Regions from separate parts of the Homo sapiens genome. Here region 1 is linked to region 2. Evidence: fine-mapped expression QTL. A gene starts in region 2. The other region holds a variant in brackets. All regions are shown on one strand. Distances are between the middles of the regions. Region 1 overlaps MYLK4 (myosin light chain kinase family member 4). Region 2 holds the start of MYLK4 (myosin light chain kinase family member 4).

Region 1 (12,141 bases), 67 kb before region 2:
TGAGCCACCGCGCCAGGCCATGTGAGCTTTTTAAATTAATTTTTGGCTTTTAGGTTGTGTCCTAGGAGTTAAAGTGATTAATGAAGAGGACACACATTTACTTTTCCAAATGATGTGCAGGGAAAGAATTCACTCCTTTCACCCACAGGAGTCAACAAAACCTAGAAGGCAACTGAGGATGGGACAGTGTTATTTATTTTTTAAATACCCCAATTGGGGCTTTTATTTAAAACGGCAAAACCTCAGAAAATATGCATGGAGTTGGAGAAGGGTCAGAGACAGAGGAGAGCTACTCACAGCATATAGGCGATGACCCCCACACTCCACATGTCAGTGGGAAATGAAACAAAATCATAGTTCACAACTTCAGGGGCGAGAAATTCTGGGGTTCCAAAGTTCACCTTCAGCTTCTCTCTGGGTTTGTATCTGCAATTTAAGAGACAAAGTGGAAGGATGGACGTGTCGATCAAAAATCGTGAACACTGAAATGATGTAGTCTATGAGACAAAATGACTTCAGCCATACAGCAAACTTCAGACAAACAAACATTGAAGGAAATCAAACAATCAAGCAAGAGGCTCAAAAACTTGTAAAGAGGCCCCAGAAAATTTAAAAGTCAAAATTCATACTAGGAAACCTTAAAAGCTGAACCAGTTGTTGGAGAAGCTGCTGTGAATAATGAGAACATCTGAATTACAGAAGATGACAAGAGGAAAACTGATATAGTCATTGACATGGGGATGATGTGAATAAGCCTGTAAAATGAATAAACACAGTACTGCAATAATTTACAACATCCATTTTATATGTGTCGTTAATGTGCTGAATTGTTAATGTGTCCACGTAAACTCTTTGTTCCCTGAAGAATCTTTTATGTGCCAGAACCCTTTGCAAACTTGCTTACGTTGTTAATATTTTTAAAGTAAATCTTCTCTGTACAGATGGATCAAATATGAAAGAGGGGACAAACTCTTGCAAATGCTAAATTAATGGCTTCTAATTTAATAAACTTCACTGTATTAGGTTTTAATTTTTTATACTTTTTACTGCATGCATTATAGAAACTTCTAAACACTCAAGTCTCAAATTTAGCAAGTTAAGGCCAAACATAATTTTTGTTAAATTAATTATAAATGAGATCATGAAACCAAAGAGCAGATCAGATATATGTTTGCAAAGGAAGGGCAACCATCATGTCCCCCAGCTCCATTCGTACACCTATGTCCAAATAGACATACCTTCTGGCCAATCCAAAATCAATAATTTTTATTTGCTTAGCATCCCGATTCACACACAGGATATTCTCAGGCTGCCAGGAGAAAGAGACACATTAGCAATGAAAACAACCATCATTCACTCAAATTGTCCTTGAACCACAACTAAAAATACAACGATGCTCAGAAAAAACATATCAGGCCTTTCACTTCGGGGCGGGCTTGTCCGTGTGGGTACTTTCTCCTTTAATTATGTGGTGGATGAGGTTGCGGGTATCCTGCCAACCCTGCATTATCCAGCCTGTCCTCTGCACGGCTTCACAGTTCACCATAATGCCTGAGTTCAGGCAGAGGCCTTGAGGGGAGCAAGAAAAGGAGGTTGCTTCAGTCCTTCCCAAATGTGCTGTGGAGGCCCGCTCAGGCCTGACATCTGCCCCTCTAAATTATTCAGTATGAATTTCCCCTTCTTGGAGAAATATTTTTCCCAAGATTGATGAGTTCCAAGGGAATTGACCTGCTCCATTCAAACAGCCACACTGAACATGCACTGTCACGTGAACGTTCCGGCCTCCAGAGCTTCCCTTTGCTCAACGCCTATGGGAAAGTCGCACGGCAGAGGAGGGCTTTTCTCTCCAGTCGTTCTTCAGTCTCAGCAGTTCCAAGGTTTTGCTGAGTTTGGTCTCAATGCCTAAAACCCCTGACTAAGTGTTCCCTTGGAGCTAGGCCCTGGTAAGACCTTAGCCTGCTGACCTGACAGTCTTGGGGTGCAGGGGGAGAAAATGGGGTGTAGTGCAGCCACTCAGTGTTCACAGAATGCCTTACAAGTGCACCTAATGTTTACTGGGGTAGAAAAACAGAGGTCTTGGGAAAGTAAGAGATTTGATTTAAAGTCAAGGCCATTTATAAAAGAGAAAAAAAGTTTTCAGAGTTAAGAACCCTCAGTCCCAATTCTTTACAAGCTGGAGGGCACCATCCCAGAAGCCAAATGCCCAGGATCCCGTTCCTCAGCCTTTAGTGGGATCAGGCTCCCCTCCCCAACCTGTCCAGGTGGAGAAGAGGTTCCAATGAGATCAGAAATTCAGAAACACATTATGAAATGACATAATGTCTCCTTATCAATATTCAATAGTACATTTGGTTGGGCAGAATATCTTTGGAAGCCCTTTTCTAAACTATCTCTAAAACAGATGTTTGTGAGTAAAAGTCATTATAGAGAAGGGGGTGCTACGTGAACCATTTGGTTTCATGCTTAAATCACTGATGGATCATGTATAAAGCTGTCCAATTGTGAAGGAGTACTGTGGCATCAAAAAGTTTGCAGGATATAGAGAAACCGTTTTGAGGGCATTTCAATAAGTTAGCCTTTTTATGACGATAAAATTAAACAATGTTCATTGGATAAATTTTGCAAAACAGAAAAATATAAAACAGACTGTTTGTAAGTCACCTATAATCTCCCCCCACATACTGACAATCACTCAATATTTTTGGCCCTTTTCCTTCCAAGGAGCTTTCAGAAAAGCAGCTCCTTAAGGACCCATCCAGCTGTCACCTTTATGATGATCTCTGCATCCAAGCCATAACTAAAACTGCCCACTGCAGGTCCTCAATCAATGTTATGAAGCCTCATATGGAGTCATTTGACTTACAATAGGTTTGCTCCTAGTTCCAGTTGCCAATCAAATCCCTGTAGGGATATCTGCAGAATATCTACATTCAATGAAAATGCTCCATGAAAGCATGCATTATCAAACTCAGTTCATAGTGAGGGTTTTGCTAATGATTTTTAGCCTCTGACTTTGTCATTTTATAAACCACTTCCTCCTGCTCTCCTCCTGCTCAAAAGTGAATGGGAAAGGCAAGGCACATAAATCAAGACAGTGAGGGAAGCCAAGTTATAGGAAGAGAGGCCCATGGAAACCTATTTCAGGAGGCTAAATTTATTTAGCTATGCAATCCCTAGTGAATGCAATAGATGGGATGTTATATAGATTGTATATTTTATGTTACTGTCACGCTGTGCAAACAGGGAAATGAGAAAATGACCAAGCCACACAAGACGTACTTTATGATACTTAGTCCCAATATGGGACTTGATCAGGGTTGTTGGGCCTAGGTCTTTTATTGGTTGTAACTAAGACTACATACAGTCCGATTCTAGGAACTTCATAATGAGACATGAGAGAGGTAAAGAGGGAAGGGGCAATCAATAGGAGGAGAAAGAAAGGCGGCTTGGCTTCTGTGTGCTTTCCACCATTGGCAGTGGGGTGCCCACCCCACCCTCTCTTCTCCTTAGCACTTTGGCCCCATCCTTCCGACTGTCCTCTGCTGCATTCTCCATAGGATTCTATTCCACAGGGCAGCAAACCCACAGAAAAACAAGTCCCAAAGTCTGGAGCTTCCTGAGTGACTCGAGGAGCTGCCGGCGATTCTTGGAGACCTGGAAAGGTTGACTACTACTTAGGGAATTCTGAGTTAGCTAAAATCCTCTCACCTACTTGTCCTGATGAGAGGGCTACCACGTGGATACCGCTGTGGTGGTGGTGACTGTTTTCATTCTAAACTTTTAGGGAAACCATTGCCATATAGATTTCCTTAACGCAGGCAAGTTACAAGAATCTGAATATCACCCCTGAAGATGGAACATGCAAATATTAGGGAGTGACAGAAGCTGAGAATAAGGAGATGAGGGTAACAATTCAGATGTTTATTCATTTCTGAAATGACTGTACCAATTTCCCCAGCTGGCATATAATAGCAGACAGGGCCCACTGTGCAAGAGCTGGGAAGGGCTTACGTCTCACAGGATACAAAACACCCTTACCTTCAGGTCCAAGTGGAGAATGTACATCTGATGCATGTGCCTTATCCCCTCACATATCTGCTTCATGAACAGGATGGTATCAAGCTCCGTCAAATTGTAGCTCTCATCGATGATGCGGTCAAACAGCTCCCCACCATCCACACTGCAGAGGGAAGAGGACTGAAACCCTCAGTCCCGATTTCCTTACCACCATGTGCTTTTCTCGTAGTGACTTGTCGTGCAAGTTCTGCTACCTCTTCTGAAAGGTGTATGTGCAGTTATTTCTCTGCCTTCTTTACTATCTTACTTAGATGATTCTTATCTTGAAGGCCTGTATTTTATATACCTTTAATCTCACAAATGGAAATCCTCAAGCCAACTCCCCACCTTTTTGTGTGTGTGTGTGTGTGTGTGTGTGTGTGTGTGTGTGTGTGTTTTGAGATGGAGTCTCGCTGTGTCGCTCAGGCTAGAGGGCAGTGGCAGGATCTTGGCTCACTGCAATCTCCGCCTCCCAGATTCAAGCGATTCTCATGCCTCAGTCTCCCAAGTAGCTGGGATTAGAGGCATGCGCCACCATGCCCGGCTAATTTTTGTATTTTTAGTAGAGATGGGTTTCACTGTGTTGGCCAGGCTGGTTTCGAACTCCTGACCCCAAGTGATCCACCAGCCTCGGCCTCCCAAAGTGCTGGGATTACAGGTGGGAGCCACCACACCGGCCCTCAAAGCCCCTTTATTCAGTGTCTTCAGCTCTGGGGTGAGCCCACATGTATCATGTTCTAAAGATGTTGAAGAGAAAGAGGATCCTAAGAACTCCAGGAGGGGAACTCCAAGCCCTGACTGAAGGTAGTCAGGGTCTCAGCCCTCTAAGTCTCCAGACTGAATTCAGGGATAAAGTGCTTCTCTGTGGCTGGTGCTAGACACAGTAATTTCCCTTATCCTTGGGGACACCTTCCAAGACCCTCCGTGGATGCCTGAAACTGTGGATAGTACTGAACCTGTATATACTATGTTATTTCCTATAGACATATAACTCCGATACAGTTTAATTCATAAATTAAGCACAGTAAGGGATTAACAACAATAACTACGAGTAAAATAGAACAATTA[T/C]AACAACACGCCAGCTGCACTACTCTTGTGTCTTGGGGCCATTATGAAGTCAAATGATAGTTCCGTGAACACAAGCATGGCGATGCCTCCACAGTCAATCTGATGACCCGGTCGGCTACTAAGTGACTAACCGCAGGGAGTGGTGGAGACGCTGGACAAAGGGATGATTCACGTCCTGGGTGGGACCGAGCGGGACGGTGGGAGATTTCATCAGGCTACTCAGAACAGTGTGCAATTTAAAACCTGTTGATTGTTTACTTCTGGAATTTTCCACTTAATATTTTGGGGCCTTGGGTAACTGAGACCATGGAAAGTGAAAGTGTGGGCAAGGGAGGACCACGATACTATACTTTTTATTCAAAATGCCTTATTGAGGAATGAAAAACAAAACGGAATCACAATATCGATTCAGTGTTGGAATTGCAGTCGGCCCTCCCTATTCGTGGGTTCTGTTTCCACAGGTTCAAACAATCGTAAATCAAAATGTTTGACCAAAAAACAATAAAAATTGACAATACAACAACAAAAATAATACAAATTTTTAAAAAATACAGTATAACAACTGTATATGTGGCATTTACAGTTTATCAGGTATTGTAAGTAGTCTAGAGATTATTTAAAGTACTCGGGGGGATAGGCATAAGTTATATGCAAAAGACTATGCCATTTTATGTCAGGAACTTGAGTGTCCTCCGGTTTTGGTATTTGCAGGGATCCTGGGACCAATCCCTCTCCGATACCAAGTAATGACTGTACTCGGTTTCTAACTAACCAGTCCTTATGTTTTTATAAAGGTGAGTTTAAATGGAAGCTTCTTAGCCCTAATCATCACCAGTTGTTGACATGACCTTTGTATTAGTGAATATGTTGAAAGTAAGATGTAGCTCAAAAACCACTTTCCTCCAGGTTGCCCTGGCTAATATTTAAGCTTGATTTTTGACAAACAGCGTAGATACAAAGCTAGATCTACTTGGTCCCACTACTTCTTAGCAATAAAATCCCATATGGAGATTTGTAACCCCAAGTGTTTCCCTTCTAGAACTGATGTGATTGTGTGATCCGCGCGAATCAGAGTCTGCGGGGGCGAGCTTGGTTCTGGTCCCGCTACAGCAGGACGGAGCTACTGAGGCACGGTCACGGTCATGAGTGCCCTTGGGGAGGTCAGGGAGGGGGCGGAGGGGATACGTACTACTCCATGACCAGGACAATGTCGTTCTTAGACTCGAAGGCATCGTACAGCTGGATGAGGTTCGCGTGGTCCAGCTGGTTCATGACGCTGATCTCGTTCTTCACCTCCTCCTGAGAAGCAGGAAACAGTGCATTAGTGTGGTCAAGATGGGGCGGGGAGGGAGGGGACCACCTCCCACAGGCTGTACCTTGTCCTTCATGCCTCTGGTCTTGATGATTTTGGCTGCCAGCTTCAGACCTGTGGCCGTCTCCTCACACTTGTGAACCTGGCCGAAACGCCCTCTGCCAAAAAGAGGAAGCGGCGTAGCATGAGGCCCTGTGGTCAGCTGCCGAGTGGACAGCGCACAGTGGCCCCAGTATTTCTCCTGCTGAGTCTGGATGAGCAGCCCTCTGAGGAGTTCTTTCAGTAAACTTCTAGAGCAGTATTTGTCAACATGTGGTGTGTGGATCACTTGCATCAGAATCACCTGGGAGCTGTTAAGAAAGCAGGTCTCGGCCGGGCACGGTGGCTCACACCTGTAATCCCAGCACTTTGGGAGGCCGAGGCGGGAGGATCACGAGGTCAGGACCAGTCTGGCCAACATAGTGAAACCCCATCTCTGCTAAAAATACAAATACAAAAAATTAGCCAGATGTGATGGCATGTGTCTGTAGTCCCAGCTACTCGGGAGGCTGAGGCAGGAGAACGGCGTGAACCCAGGAGGCGGAGGTTGCAGTGGGCCGAGATCGCGCCATTGCACTCCAGCCTGGGCGACAGTGCAAGAATCCATCTCAAAAAAAAAAAAAAAGAAGAAAGAAAGAAAGAAAAAAAAAAAGAATCCAGGATTCTGGGCCCTACCCCAGACCTCCTGAGGCAGGAATCCAGGGGTAGGCCCCAGAATCTGCATTTCAGCACATTTCTTGGGTGATTCATATGCACCCTCACATTTGAGAACCACCTTTACAGACAATGCAGAATCCTTCTGAATACATATGAATGTTATGAGCTGGGCTTTGCCAGCATATGAACAAGAGAGCCCACCTTCAGATATATAAAATTATTTTTGGAAACTGCATATGTAACAATACTGCATATACATCCATATAGTCAAGACTGCATATTGCCAAGTCACCTATGAGCTTGAATATAAACACAAGACAGCTTCTTACCTACGTAATCACATACAGATGTGCACACTTGTGAGCAGTTTTAAATTTAATTTGCTTAGTTTGATTTCTTATTTAGTAAAATAAGCTAGAACACGTGTCCCTGCTCTGCAATGGTGGATGTCACAGTAGGGAGTGAGGAACAGCTTCCCTAGCAACACAGTGAACCCGAGGCAAGCCCTATGACAAGGCAGAGGACTTCAGCGATGAAAGTCATGGCAACGCTGGGCAGATGCAGGGGCACTGGCGGCCGCTGCATCCTACTGTGGGGCTGCACACCCAGCACAGAGGCAGATGAATCTTGGAGAATGACACAGGATTACCATAAACGTAGCCACGGCGTGACTTCAATTCCAACCTCTGCTCCAGATAGAGTCTCTATGGGAACACACGGACACAGCCCCAGCCACCTCTTAATTGGTTGTTATGGAAATGGTTTCTCCCCTTCACTAGCAATGGCCGCAGAACCTCCTGAGCCAGCAGTGGTGCCCATCACTGTCTGACTTCCCGGCTCCCTCAACCTTCTGACTCTTTCCCCTGATTTATTGTGCAAGGGCCCTGAAGGTTGAGGCCAACTCCCAGGATTCATGCTGGTTCAACACAGTGATAACCTTATGCTCATTGAACATGGCAAGCAGGGATGATGGATACCCTCAAGGCCACAGGGCAGGAGACGAACTCCCAGGAAAATTCAGGGGCCTGCCCCTGTGGGCAGGGTTTTTGGGATCCAGTGGTCCTTGGCATGTTGCAATATTTCTGCCAAAAGTAAAAGATAAGTTGCTACATCTTGAACCTGCTACCACTTAAAAGGAGGTGCAGCACTTGGTGATGTCTGCATTTTGAAGGCATCCACGCACATTTGATCATGCTCCTCTCACTTATTTGCTGAGTGAATTACGGCTGCCAATTTTGGTGAAGCCCATAACGAGAGCTGACGGGCAGCTGGTCTAGACTGCAGTACCAAAGAGAAGATCCCATGGTGCCCAAACAGACAGAAAGGAAGTTTCAAAGGAGCAATTGACAAACCTTGACCAGAAAAACAGCACAAACCCTGGGAATTCTTTCAAAGCTTCTTCTGCAAATAACTATTCTCGGTTAGAGAAATAGTTGCTGGCTTGCCACTGATGTCCCTGAAGGCCCAAATACCTCAGGCTTCCATGGAGCCAGTTCATGCTGTGGAATTCCTGTTTCTCCCTCAGCCCATCCCCGCAGTCTCATGGGGCATTCTATGAGATCAGCCAGATCAGGAAGGGAAAGTCCAGGTGGTTCCATTCGGCACAGGGCAAAGAAATACGGAGTGGGAAGAGGAGGAAGGGACTTCACAAATATCAAGGACTCCCTGAAGACCACTTGCAGACGCCTGAACTGCAGTAGCGATGCGTGCTTTCCTTGTGTTGGTGAGTACATTTTGTATGTATACGTGCAGATGTTCTGCTTTCCTCTTCCTATTTTACACAGACATGCCGATGGCAGCAAACGTTATAATTTAGACTTTGAGTTACAAGATATCACGGGGGGTTGTGAAAGAAGTAAACGAAGAAGAACACCCTCTCCCCACCCCCAGCAGGAAGCGGGTCCCTGATGGACTTTAATTTTCCTTCTGGTTTTTTTTCTTTTCTTTTTTTTTCTTTTTTTTTGAGACAGAGTCTTACTCTGTCACCAGGCTGGAGTGTAGGGGCCTGATCTCGGCTCACTGCAGCCTCCAACTCCCTGGTTCAAGCGATTCTCCTGCCTCAGCCTCCCGAGTAGCTGGGATTACAGGCATGCGCCACCACGCCCAGCTAATTTTTGTATTTTTAATAGAGACGGGGTTTCACCATGTTGGCCAGGATGGTCTCGAACTCCTGACCTCAAGTGATCTGCCCGCCTCAGTTTCCCAAAGTGCTGGGATTACAGGCGTGAGCCACCGCGCAAGGCCTTTAATCTTCCTTCTTTAGGGAGAATGTGTGTTTAAATGTCCCTAAAATAAGTTATTTGCTGAGCAAAGTAATCAATTGAAATGAATAATAGTAATTAATATAGTAACAACATAAATGAAAAACCAGCAGCAATGACAGAAAGACCTAATACAGGCCACAAAAACTACACGCTGTTGACTCATTTCTATCTTCTGTCTCCTGGAGGCTGCACTATGGCTTTGGACAGCTGGTCAACCTTCTGGTGACTCACAATGGGTTTTTCTTTCTTTTAGACATTACAACATGGGAAGTAAAGCAGATAATAAATGTGGAGTTTAGTCACCACATTAACCTTTCTGGCATCAGTGACAATTTTCAGAAATGGTTACTGTTTCTTAAAATGTTTGTTTCTAATGTTTCTAGTTCTCAGGTCAAGACAGGCAGACATTTACGAAGTCATTTGCACGCTCTCTTCTTTTGTTGAGAGAATATTAACATTCAGCCTTACTCACCCTCCTAGGATTTCTGTCTTGCTCACAGTATAGAAGCTGTTGACCGCTCCTTGCTTGGCTGTCACAATACGATGATCAAATGGGGCCGGAGGAGCCGGGATGTCAACTAGAAGGTGAGAGAAACAGAAGGGCAATCTGTCAAGAAGTCTGACCTCGTTAAGGCAGCAAGCCTGGGCCTCATAGTAAAAATGTGCTCATTTAATAATAAAATACAAGGAGCCATCTGTTTGATTCCTAATGATCCAGGGATATAGATTTCCACTTGAGATTATGAGCTGTGACTCATAAAGGTGATCCTGACACCTCTGAGAAAGAGTGTCAGGGCGGCTCAATGGTTGTCCATACCATCTTCAGGATCACTTTTAGAAATGTCAAAATAGTTGAAAATTTCCAACCCAACACAGTCCAAACAGGTAATACTTCCAAGCCTGAGACCATTCAAATTCAAACATGAGAAATTGTTTGATTCATTTTTAAAATGCATTACTGATATAATCCATTATTTTAATTATATCAGAGACAAAAAAGAAAAATGAAACATTTCTTCATGTTGTTGAAATGCTTGATATTATATATTACTTTCCAAAATGTCTTAGACTTTATTTAAGACACATTTAAGGCACAAAGATGAATTTTTCCTGGCTGGCTGGAAATAAAACACCCAATAAAACCAGGTAAGTGTGTATTCAACAGAGATCAAATTTCTCCCACTTTCTCCCCTTCCACCTTAAGTGTTTAAACGCTCGTCCACATCAGCACCAGCTCTAACATACAGAATTACTCAGGGATATTCCTCCCAGTATTCTTTCACCTTTCCATGACTACTGCTGTTGAAATTGGCTTGCCATGAACCTGCTCATTCTTCGTTAATTCATTTACTAAGCAGCGACTGCATGCATACAATAAGAATACAAAGGGAGGTAAGTAAATAACAGCTTTGCTTTCAAAACACTCTACATTTATTTGACATATGTTTCTTGAGCATTTACCTTGTTCCAGGCACTCTGCCAAGTGTTAATATTTTTAAAAATTCAGATAATATAAATCTCTGGGAATCTGATTTGATATGGACATCACCTCTCAGAGCCTAAATATGCTGAAAACTGAAGTCACCAGAGAAGCATCTTGATAACATTCACTGTTTCAGATTAATAGAGGGAGTTAAATACACAAGCGGCATCGAAATGGCATTATATCTCCTGCAGGCTGTTAGACTAAATGAAATTTAGTCTGTAATGCTTGCTGGAGAAGGTTAAAAAGCCTTAAAAGGCCCATACAAAAGCCATTTCCTACCCAGTGGGGTCAGGCCGTCTTGCCCTCGGGAGGTCTTCATCCCAGCAGACTCCCTGAGTCGGCCCCGGGAGCTCCTCAGCTTGCCTGGCTGCCTGTGTCTTCTGACACGTGTGTTCTTCCCCTGTGCCGACTATGTCTACTCTGCGCCTTTTGCTGTCCTCGTTGACGAGGCGCTCCTCTGCCACTCCACGCTTACTGCTGCCCGGGCACTCTGTCTGGTCAGCATTCCAGAAAATGGATCCTACTGCTGAACTTCCAGGGATTCGTGGGGGTAGAAATGGCCCTTATGCTGCTGACACACCTGGGAAGTAAAGTCCAGTTGCAGCTCTCAAAGTTTCAAGAAGAAAACATTCAGATGGTGGAAATTCTTTAAGAAGGTTTTCTTAAAACAGTGTTTTGGTGACGAGGACGTGAGCTCCGTGATAGAGGTGACCATTTCGGGGCTTGGGGAGGAAATGGAGCAGCACGCTCCCCATCAAGTCTATGGGTGTAGAGAACCAGGGTCCCAGGGAATCTCACCACTGGCCAAATCGTGACCCCAAGTTATTCCACTGGAACTTAACAAAAGCCGTCATTTTATGAATACCTAACTAATTTGATCTTCATTTTTTCACTTCCTTTCCTTAGAGAGAAATTATTAAATTATAGCATGATAAAAGAAGCAATAATCTCTCTGAATCTTTTTTTTTTTTTTTTTTTTTTTTGAGACCGAGTCTCGCTCTGTCGCCCAGGCTGGAGTGCAGTGGCGCGATCTCGGCTCACTGCAAGCTCCGCCTCCCGGATTCAAGCAATTCTCTGCCTCAGCCTCCCGAGTAGCTGGGACTACAGGCGCCCGCCACCACGCCCGGCTAATTTTTTTGTATTTTTAAATAGAGACGGGGTTTCACCGTGTTAGCCAGGATGGTCTCCATCTCCTGACCTCGTGATCCAACTGCCTCAGCCTCCTAAAGTGCTGGGATTACAGGCGTGAGCCACCGCAC
Region 2 (12,141 bases):
TAAGAAAAGTCATTAGAAAACAGAATAAAAAGGAAAGTAGGAAAAATAGGCCACACACAGCAGCTCATGCCTGTAATTCCAGCACTCTGGGAGGCCAAGGTGGGAGGATCACTTCAGCACAGGAGTTCAAGACCAGTCTGAGCAACACATGGAGACCCCTGTCTCTACAAAAAAATACAGAAAGTAGCCATGGGTGGTGGTGCATGCCTAGTCCCAGCTACTTGGGAGGCTGAGGCAGGAGAATCACTTGAGCCAGGGAGGTCAAAGCTGCAGTGAGCTGAGATCACACCACTGCAATCCAGCCTGGGCGACAGAGTGAGAAGCTGTCTCAAAAAAAAAAAAAGAAACAAACAAACAAGAAAAATTAAAAGAACAAGGCCGGGCACGGTGGCTCACGCCTGTAATCTCAGCACTTTGGGAGGCCAAGGCAGGTGGATCATGAGGTCAGGAGTTTGAGACCAGCCTGACCAATGTGGTGAAACCCCGTCTCTACTAAAAATACAAAAAAAAATATAAAAAAAAATGAGTCAGGCGTGGTTGCGTGCGCCTGTAATCCCGGCTACTCAGGAGGCTAAGGCAGGAGAATTGCTTCAACCTGGGAGACGGAGGTTGCAGTGAGCTGAGATCGCACCACTGCACTCCAGCCTGGGTGACAGAGCAAGACTCCGTCTCAAAAAAAGAAAAAAAGAAAAAAAGAAAGAAAGAAAAATTAAAAGAACAAGAACTACTTAAGTAGAAGGAAGAAAAGAAGGCTATGAAGTGTTTCATAAACTCAGTAAAACATAGAGGAAAGAAGGAAGATGGCTAAAAATGAATTCAGTAGAAGAAAAATAAAAGAAATAGAAAAATCTGATTAAGAGCAGGAAAACAAAAAGAATCTGAGTTTTATCAAACTATTTTAACAAATATAAGTTGTTAAATCTATATAAAATTCTTCCCCTATTGGGACTGGAGAGTAGTTCCAGACTCTAAAGAAACTGCACTGCAAGCTTCCAGAACAAAGCTTTCATGTCACCAGAGTCTGAAATTCAGAGTACATTCTTTCCAGTGCACCACAGGGGATGTTTCTACTATGATTAGCCGTGCTAATCCCCTCAAAGAGAGAAGGGATGAGAGAGAAAGGGGAATAGGTGGAGAAAATCGACAAGCATGTTTTTATAGTCCCTGGAGAGAAAAGCGTGGCATTTTAAAGATTTACTGCTGCCCCAGCAGAAGATGAAGACGTGTTAATCTAGCTCTGTCTGCATACCTGAAGACATCTGAGCTGCTGGAATGTCCTTCTCCACCCACCCGCTGCCAAGCCTGCTGGCTGCCCTGGCACCCACCAACTAGGCAGGCAGGGGCTCCAGGCCATGGAAAGGAGAACTCTGTGCCTCTGACACATGCACCTATCCATTCTCCACGTGGACGGAGAGAGACAGGGAAATTTATTGCAGACATCTCTAGGCCCTTCTCCATTTACAAGTAAGAAATTGAATGGGACACATGGAGCTCCTAGTGATTCCTTCCCACCTTCCACAGGGTGTCAACTGCAGGACGGAAGCCAGGAGGCCCAAGTTACAGAAGGGATATGAGACTTACTATAAAGGACATTCTCTGATGGTTTCTAGGGGTTAAATAGCAGTCTCAATTTTTCCCTCAAAAACACCCTAAAAATATTTAACTTCCAAATCATCAACTTCTGGATGTAGTTGGCTGCACAAAAGTAACATCCCTACATATATTTATGTTCCAACTTAGCACTATCGCACTCTTTTTTTTTATCTTCAGAAACAGGGTCTTCCTCTGTTGCCCACGCTGGAGTGCAGTGGTGTGATCATAGCTCACTGCATCCTTGAACTCCCGGGCTCAAGCAATCCTCCTGCCTCAGCCTCCCAAGTAGCTGGGACTACAGATGTGTGCCACCATGCCCGCTATTTTATTTGTATTTTTTTATTTTTGTAGAAATAGACATCTCACCATGTCACCTGGGCTGGTCTCAAACTCCTGGCCTCCAGTGATTCTCTTGCCCCAGCCTCCCAAAGTGCTGGGATTACAGGTATGAGCCATGTGTCCTGCTTATCTCACTCTTTAGAGTGTTGCCCATTTATAAAAATTGTATCATAGATTTTGGAGAAAAACAGTACTTGAAAGATAATGAAATTCATATAAACTATTACAGTTAGTTGATGATTTCAAAGTTCTCCAAGAAGAATATTTTGTCTTCTCTGTCCTACCGAAATTAATAAACAGAAAAAATTATCCTGTTTGTACCACTGAAAACCCTAATGAGAAAGTCATGTCTCACTTAATTTTGCCTGTAGATATTTCTCCTTGGTCTATATTGAACTCATGGGGAAAGCAGAGGTCTCAAAAAAATGTTTCAATCTGATTCATTTATTCTCTCCAGCACATTTTGTCATTTCTTATTCACTTACAATAAAAAGCCTCCTAGACCTTTTATATACAATCTCTCTATTTCATTGTCTATTGCATTGTTAGAAACGCCCTTCCTACCTGAATAGTGTTTTTTAGAACAGTAGCTGGGCAAAGAAGGATGTTTTCCAAACCTGCCTGATAAGAATCACTTGCTCTGATTATCAAAAATAATGGTTCCCAGCCCTCAACCAGAATTCACTTAAATAGATCTGTGCATTCCAAAAACACTTTTGGTGCCTATTTGTTTCCGTTACTAGGAAAGCAACTGAGGAAACATGAACAAATAACACGAGGTTTCCCAACCTTAAGGAGCCTTGTCTAGAGAAAGGTGATCAACATGTTCAAAACCACCACATGTGCTGGAATGAAGGCACGGGCAAAATGCTTGATGCTCCCACCGGGCAAGGAGCCAACGGATGATGGGCAGGAACTGACTGGGCCAAGGCAGGGGAGGTAATTGCTGCTGCCGCTAACACATATTAAATGCTGACTCTAGTGACAGATACTAGGCGGAGTGCTTTACAGACGTGATCACACTTAATTTTCACAATTGCTATTATCTCACTAATTCAGATGTGGCAAGCCCTTGGTTAAATTAATATTTTTCCCAAGAACGAGCAGCTGGAATGGGGCTCAGAACTCTCGTTCTGCACAGAGGAGGGTACAAGCCCCACCGTCGTGCCATCAGCAAGTCTTTCTTGTCCCTTCTCTGGACTTCACTATCAACAGCTCTGCTGTCTACCGCGTGAGGAACTCAAGATCTGAAGGAAAAAGGAGAAACTTCTTTCTGCAGAACAGTGTGCCTCTCAGAGCCCTTTTCTGAATTTCAAGCCCAAATCCATCATGCTAAAGGATTCTTCTTCATTTCTGCAAGCTGGCTGTATAACTCCTAAGCCACTAACTAAAAGTGAAGTCGACTGCTGGCAGAAATGCAGTTTCAAAGGCCTCCTAATTATTTACCAAACACAATTGTATAGTCGACACACACAATTCTCACTGAAGCAAAGTGGAATGATGCCTATTCATAAACTTTCCTTAATTGTACTCACAAGCGGCTCCATGACATTAGAAAAGATAAGATAGAATGAATACTTTTTAGGAGACTAAATTAGAACATGATTACCTCATTATGTCCAGATCTTGAATCCTGGTCCCCAGAATTTTTTTCCAGAAAACACTTCACTTTCTCCACCTCTTCCCTGCACTGAAAAAAGGCCATTTTCTCCAGCTGGTTGCTGTTATAACACGTGTTGAATTCTTCCAGCCTCTTCACTTTTAACATCTTAGTAGTGAGTCCGATTAAGCTACTTTCTGGAGTGTGGTTTTCGTCTCCCTCTGTCTCCGATTTATAAATCAGGACACAATTATGACTCTTCAGTGCTTCTTTCTCTTGACTGCAAAGAAAGGAAACACAAAAAGTTCTCATCACGTATTCATGCATTTGACTTCTTGAGAAAATGACCAGTGAGAATTTGGAAGTCCCTTCTGTTTAAACTGGAGAGAGGATCCAAAATCAGGAAAAGAAATACTAACATTCATATTGAGTTTCCAACATTGGAACTTTAAAAGGAAAAAAAATTTTTTCACTTTAAAACTACAAAAGCAAACAGTAAGAAGCAATGTCAAGATTCACTGGTGATGAAATATGCTCCTTATTGCACAAAACAAGCCGTAGATCAAGTGGCCAGCTTGGATGTAAATTATAAAGTATCTTTGGGTTTAATTGGAACCGCAGGTTTTGCAGCCCCGTGGGAAGGGCTTATCACAGAAGGGGTCTCTCTGCTTCCCCTGGCCTCCCTCTGCAGAGGGATCGCTCCCGAATGAGTCCTTTTCCAGAACTCTTCTCTACCTATGCCTTAAAATGTGTGGTGTTTATTTGTGAAAAGAAATTTATTTCCTTACAGTCTTCTCACGTGGACAGCACTCCCAGATACCTTTCCTTGCATCTGCATTAACAGCTATGTACCGAGAAGTTCAGAGTCTTTTCACTCTCCTTAAAATACTTTCCTCGCAAATGAAGTAATGCAGCATACATAATTCGCTTTGATACTAGAGACATATACGCATGTCTATATGTACACATCACTTGATTGCATAGAGAGGCAGGGAGAGGGAGAGACATTTGAATTTGTGCTAGTTCCGCATGGCTGACAACTGAGGCCCCCTGGTGGAGATTTTCCGAAAAGCGCCTCTTCGAGCATTTTCTCCGCTTAAAAACCGTATTGTGATTCTCATCAGAAAACTTAATATTTTGTTTTGTCAGTTCCTATAGTAAAATGATACTCTTGAGTTCCAAAGTGTTTAAAATTCACTGCTCTAACAAATTATACTTATCCACATAAAGAGCTTACATTCAAACAAATAAAAATGCAAATATTAATACTATCAACCAGAGCTCTACAGATATATTACAGATCATTCTTAGCATTCTTTCAAATTGCCCTGAAAAAATTATTAAAATAAGGAAACAAATGCATGGCTATTTCTAAGGCAAACTACGACTAAAATACTATGGTTAATTGCAGATGAAACTCAAGTTGGATCAGGAAGCCACACAAAATTAATGTATTAAAACAAAAGCTTAGGATTAAGATACAATAATTTTGCAAAGAAATATTAAACATTAAGCTCTACCTGAAGTTTGGTACAATTTGTTATTGAAGGTAACTTAGAAAAAAGGGGAGGAGATTTGAGAGGTTATAACAATAAACAAAGATAATTACCATTGATAGGATCACATCGAAGAGCTTGAGCCACTCCAAGTCTAGAGCATACATTCCAGAAGATAAAGAGAAATTTTGCAGAATTCAAACTGACTATGAAAGTCTCTGGTAAAAGTTTTGACTCTCAGTCGTATAAATCTTCTGAAAAGACAAGTGTCCACTACGAGAGGAAGTATCTTCTCTCTCAAATGCCACTTTCAGCCCCTGTTTAAATTAATATGGCTCTTGATCTCACGTTGCTCAGCTGTTGCCTTCTTAGTCAGATGGGGAAGAATATTAATTTTAGACACCAGGCTTTTCAAGGCCAATGGCTCCATTTCAGAGGTCAGGTAAGGAGAGGATGAACCGGGAACACTGGATGAAATATCACCTTCACCTTTCCCTCGTATCATTGTGTCAATACTCTCGGATTTACAAAGCTAGATTTGTCCTCGGCAATCATCTGCCTGGACCTTCTGCCCCTTTCAGACTCAGGATTATTTAAGTGCTCATTAAATTTCCCCCAGTAGGGAAAATGCCAGGTGTGGCAACCCCACAGCCACCTCTGTTTGCCCATCTTACGCTTTGAGCATATCCAACTGCAATATAGAAGATCTTCTGAAAGCAGTTAGCAAGTTTGTTTTATTTTTCTCAGTTCTTAAAGATGTTTGCAAAGTCTCCAACCATTTCTAGCTCTAGGGAAAGGTCAAAGGCACAGGCATCCAGGAAACAGGAATAAATTTTTCATAAATTCTCCTTAAGCAACACTAGGACTTCATCCGTAGTTTTCTGCACAGACCAAGAAAGGGGAATTTCAACCCACCTGCCCGACTCTCACAGTAGTGCATCCCTAGATTCACTGAAGTGGCATAAAACTTTGATTGCCCAGAGGCTGGACTTTGCAGTCTTGAAAACCCTGCAATTTTTCAGGGCCTGGCCAATTGTCACCTCTTATTTGGAGCCTGTGTTAGCCCCTCTATGCCCCATTCTAACACCAGCCTCTGCTGCTCTTCTGCTTCTTTTAAAAAAAAAACCTTATTTTTAATTCAGATCGATGCATTCCATGTGAAATAAAAATACATATTTTTCCATTTTATGTAGTATTAATGAATTACAGCAAAATCTTTTTTAAAACACAAAACGCTTGTTATTTTTCAGATTGGAGAGCTTTGTTCTTCAGCAAAAGTAATGAAGTGGAACTATAAATTTGTGGAGATAAATTATCTGACAAAAGTATTATACAAAGACTAAGCTGGTTTGAGGTTACCAATTTTGTTAGTATAATTAAATTGTGTAGAAGTACTGATAAGGCAACAAATGCCCTGCCAGAGGCAAGATGTGTGTGGGCTGCTGCTGATCCAACCACATCCTCCACCCGGACCACCACCACGCAAAAGCAGACTTCCTATCTCGTTGGCTCCAGCAAACCAACCACAGGCTTGAGTGAGCCAGAGGCCAGGAGAATCTGCTCCTTAGCTTATTTTTTTGTAATAAACTTTTCCTTTTAGAGTAGTTTTACATCTACAGAAAAGGTGCAAAGGTAGTTCAGAGTTCCCCTTGCCCTGCACCCCGAATCCTCTGTTTTTAACATCTTACGTTGGTATGGTATACTTGTCACAATTAATGAACCATGGTGAACGTTATTATTAACTAAACTCAATACTTTATTGTTGCTGGGTTTTTTTTTTCCCCAAATGCCCCTTTTCTGTTCCAGAATCCCATGCAGGATTCCACAGTACATTTAGAATCAGTAGGATTTATGATAGATTGGGTATGGGGTATGAAAGAAAGATGGTAGACACCTTTGCATATTTTCTTCTGAGCACTTGAAAGACAGAGTGAACATTAACTGAGATGGAGACGGCTGTGGGAAGGGCAACTCTGGAGGGAAAGGTCAGGCATGAAGTCTTTGGCAAGTCCATTAAACGTTCAAGTTGAATAGGCTGTGGAGATAGAAACTGGAGTTCCGGGGAGGGGTGTAGGCTGGAGATAAGAATTTGGAAGGCATCCACATATAGACATTTCCATGCACAATATACATTCAATACATATTTGATTAATGACTAGATAGAATGATCTTTAATTGTGTCTACTTGCCCTAAAAAGCAAGTCAATTAAAATAATCCATGCTAAAAGTGACTGATTGTCTGGTTCTGCTGCATCACACTGTTCCCAGCTTCCGATGGCATACAGGACAAGCACACTGCTGGCACAACCCTTGACCACAAAAAAACAGGTTATACATGCATACTCATTCTGGTCTATCAGCCTAGCCTCAGGATCCTAAGTCCATACCCATAAAATGTTCTGCATGCTTAAAGATGCTCTTATACCCGGAAAAATTCATTAGTGAGGAATATGAGCAGGCCCAGGAACACTTTTCCAGTATTTCCATATTTTGGAGTTATACTTCTCTAAAAAATACCAACATCAGGAAAACAGCACCCTACAGAGCCATGGAAAAGAATCCCTTGATTTTTTTCAAGGGACATTTCCATTAGCTGAGTAAGAGACTGTGTTGTCAAAGGAGCCACATGAAGAAACATCGTCGACAGCTCTTGTCTACGGGTTGGCATTGAAACCCGGCTGGATTACACTAAGAGTTTTTGTTTCTACACAGCGTTCTGAATGTTTCCAGAACAAGACCTCTTGAATGTTTACACACAAAAGCGGAGCAACAGTACAAATACCCAAATGCAAATAAAAAGCTACTGCATCCCTGTTACCCACATTACAATAGAACTTCCTTACTTTCAAAAATCACCACTGAATACGACCCATAAAAACGAAGATTGATAAATTGCACTTCTTCAAAATTCAAAACGTTTGCCTTTGAAAAAACACTATTAGGAAAATGAAAAGACACTATTATGAAAATGAAAAGACCAGCTACAGATGTATAGAAAATACTGTGAAGTCACATATTTGACAAAGGACTGCATCTAGCATATACAACTTAATAATATATGACAAAACATTCCAGTTTTTTAAATGGACAAAAGATTAAAACAGACCTCACCAAAGAAGATATAAAAATGGTTAATAAGCACATGAAAAAAAATGCTCAAAATCAGTCATCAGGGAGATGCAAATTAAAACCACAAGGAAACATCATTTCACACCCACTAGGAGAGCTGTAATAATAATGAAAAAAATAAAAGATAGGTTGGGTGTGGTGGCTCACACCTGTAATCCTAGCACTTTGGGAGGCCAAGACAGGAGGATCACTTCAGTCCAGGAGTTTGAGACCAGCCTGGGCAACATAGCAAGACCCCATCTCTACCAAAAAAAAAAAAAAAAAGACAGAGAAAAGCAAGTGTTGACAAGGATGTGGAAAAACTGGAACCCTCACCAAATATGTTGATGGGAATATAAAATGATACAGGTGTCTTATAAAAGAGGTTGGCAATTTCTTAAAAAGTTATTTCCCATATGACCTAGAAATTCTTCTCCTAGGTATCTACCCAAGAGAAATGAAAACATATGAACACAGAAACCATGGCACATGAATGTTCACAGCAGCATTATTCACAATAGCCAAAAACTGAAAACAACCAAAATGTCCATCGGATGATTTGGAGACTGGGAAAAGATAATGTGGTATACACATACAAATGGAATACTACGTAATTAAAAGGAATGAAATACTGGTATCTACTACAATATGGATGAGCGAAAACACTGTGCTAATTGAAAAAAAAAAGCCAGAAACATAGAGCACAGATTGTATGATTCCATTTGTATAAAATGCTCAGAAAAGACAAATCTATAGACGTAGAAAGCAGACTGGTGGTTGCCGGGGGCTGGGTGCAGGAATGGGGGTTAATTGTAAACAGAATCTTACCCGATGATGTGTGGTAGTGATGACTGTACAACTCATTCAGTTTCTTAAAACAATGCAGAATTGTGCACTTGAGATGGGTGAATTTTATAATATGTAAATTATACTTCAATAGAGTCATTAAGAAAAAGAAAACCCAATAATATGATTAACAAAAAGTAGCTTGTTAAAAGGAGAGGAAAAAACTGAACACTTTGTGGTCATCTGTCCCCAGTGACCAAGGCTGGGATCCAGGGAAACATAAATTATATTCCACACTTGCCAGGTCACCTAGGGCCAAAGAAAAGGAATGGTGAGCAGGAGACAGTTAAGAGTCTCACGCTTTTCTTCTCCTGGCATGAATATCATGCAATATAAGATTTTGTAATTAATAGAAAAATTAATAGTAATTTTAAAAGTAATTTCTATCTTTTATTTTCTGCTTGGAGATAGGATACTTTGAGCAAGAAAGATAATGATGTTATGGAATATCCAGATTTCTTTACAGGAAATTTTGATATTAGACCACTAAAACTTCTAAGTGACAGCAATTAGCTAAGTATTACGAAATACAAAAATGAAAATAAAACAGGTTTTAAAAATTAGATAAAAATATGGATTGGATCATTTAAAAATTAATATTTTTCAGAAATATTACATAAAGTTTCAGTTTATTACCTCTACAGTGGCTACACAAATTGTTCCTTTAATTATATCCCTTAAACTTTCTAAGGGATATTTGCAAGCATAGTACAATGAATACCTATACATCCTTCACCCATATTCACCAAATGTTAGCATTTTCCATGTTTGCCCTCTCTCTCTCTTTTGCGAGTAAGATGCATATCTCATGAAACTTTACCCCTATATGAATTGGTGTATGTTTCTTGAGAAAAAAGACACTTTCTCACATAACAGAATCTACTCAAAAATTACATAGCGCATTTAATCACCATGTCTTCTTAGTCTCCTTTTATCTATTTAGGAAATGGTCATTCCGTTTATTTTATTTTATTTTACTTTTTGAGACAAGGTCTCACTCTGTTGCTTGTGCTGGAGTGCAGTGGCGTGAACACAGCTCACTGCAGCCTTGACCTTGGCTCAAGTGATCCTCCTGCCTCAGCCCTCCAAGTAGCTGGGACTATTGGCAGGCACCACCACACCAGGCTAAGTTTTGTATTTTTTGTGGAGATGAGGCTTCCTAGTCTCTCTCTCTTTTTTGTAATCCTTCATGACATTGATATTTTTGAAGTCTTTGGACAAATTGTTTCATAAAATGTCTCTCAATTCTAATTTCCTGATTGTGTCTTCATGCTTGGAACCAGGTTATACCTGAGCATGAAAACTACAGAAGTGACACTGTATCTTTTTCAGAACATCACAAAAGGTGGCACATGATGTCGGTTTGTGCCATTATTCGTGATATTAAATTTGGTGATCTGATTAAGGTTGTGTCCACCAGACTTCTCAAATGTAAAACTAACCCTTTTATTTTTGTGATTGATAAATAACTTGTGGGAATTTATAGGTATCATGTTCCCCAACAATGCATCACCCAACGTTTCTCAGTATCTATTCTTGAGAATCAATGATTACCACAGAGACTGTGAAATGATTTTCTAATTCTGCCATTTCTTCTATACTTATTAATTGGTATTCTTTTATAAAGAAGAGCTTTCCATCCCCATCCTGAACCTCACTCTCTTTAGTATCAGGATGAGCTTATGGCCTTTTAAAAATGGACATACACTCCCTATATTCTTTATTTTGAAGCTCAAATTGTCCCATATTGGCCAACGGAAGTGCCTTCAAGCTGGCTCCTATGTACTTTTGATATGTCATTATTATTTTTTGAGTACTTCCTTACTTTCAGTACTGTTTTCACCCTGTTTCTGAATTCTGCCATTTCTTCAAGGAGCCCTCCTTCCTCTTAGGCAGAATGGTATTTAGAAATCAAGCCCTGGGCACCAGGAGTGTTTTTTGCTACGGGGGTGTCACTGTAGACACTTCAGAGGACAGAGAGAGGAAATATAATTCTTTCTAAAAAATCATGAGTTCACACTCATACTGATATATTTCTATTTCCAAACCAACACCATAGGATTATTTCCGCCCTTTCCCTATACCACATATGTAACCCCCTCCCACTGATACTTTAAGCCTAAAAATTTTAAACATGAGAAAACACAAAATAAAATGCTTGCTACAAGGTAAAATTCATACTACTGTTGTGACTATCCATTCTAAACAATTGAGGAAAGTCTAAGGATATTCATTTCCAATATTTAAAAATCCCATGCTACAGCATGAATCATCATTTTCTACTTTTAGGAACTGGAGGAACAATGTTTATGTTTATGTTCTCGGGAATGCTCTCCTACCTTCTAAATTGGAAGTAGATTTCAGAGCTAGAATAAGCTTATGATAGTAACAAGGCATGAAATTACAGAAGTGCAAAGTCCAAGTCATGCTCTTCTGACCAAATGTTGGCCTCCTTGTCCCAAGAGGGTAAGGTTGAGAGGAGAAATTTTCCACATGGAAAAACACTGCCATAGGGCGTGCATTAATGGCTGATGGGCAGTTTGGTGAACTCTCAGAGGTGTGCTTTTTTTTTTTTTAATTAAAGATAAAAGTTGTATTTTTAGGTAGAAAATAAGTTGAGCTATTATGTAATGACTCATAATAGGTCGCGAGCTTTTATTCTACATGTCCAAAAGTATTGAAGAATCTGGGGTACAAAAGGACCATGGCAGCTCGTAAAATGGTAAAAAGCATTATAAGCACCAGTTAGTGTATGGAAAACATCTTCAGTGTGAATGAAGCCTGGGAGGCAGAGGGCAGATAGGCAGCCTTGTATACTTCTGGTTAAAATGCATATTGCTCTGATTTTTATGGAAGGCAACTTGGTCATGCCCTTTGACCCTGCAATCACATTTCTAAGAAGTTTACCTCAAAGAAACAGAGTAGTACACAAAATATTATCTCTGAAGATATCATCATAACATTATTTGTTATATATAAAACACTGAAATAGAACCTATGTACAAGAGTTATAGATAGGATACTTCCATAAAAAAAAAAAAACTAGGGTTATTGGTTATGTGTCAATTTCATAGTTAGGGAAAAAGGGACAGATCCGGGCACAGTAGATGCAATAGGATCTGAATTTTAACTAAAGAAAGATGCACTGTCAATACATAG

Evidence for each region. PIP is the estimated chance that this variant, and not a neighbour inherited with it, causes the effect.
Region 1: its variant is fine-mapped to the expression of MYLK4 in subcutaneous fat (TwinsUK, PIP 0.95).

Annotation. Positions count from the first base shown.
Region 1 is chr6:2,678,983-2,691,123 of GRCh38, forward strand. It overlaps MYLK4 (myosin light chain kinase family member 4), which reads right to left. Exons shown (of 13, transcript NM_001012418.5): 4 at 9,869-9,974; 5 at 6,501-6,594; 6 at 6,314-6,423; 7 at 4,039-4,180; 8 at 1,239-1,309; 9 at 298-426. Among named protein-coding and RNA genes, the nearest start is that of LINC01600, 50 kb to the left of the region's middle. The variant T/C (reference allele first, on the strand shown) is at 5,125.
Region 2 is chr6:2,745,595-2,757,735 of GRCh38, forward strand. MYLK4 (myosin light chain kinase family member 4) reads right to left here and starts at 5,328. Exons shown (of 13, transcript NM_001012418.5): 1 at 5,142-5,328; 2 at 3,542-3,812. The coding sequence starts at 3,700. RefSeq lists silencers at 6,901-7,195, 11,241-11,535 and an enhancer at 11,241-11,535.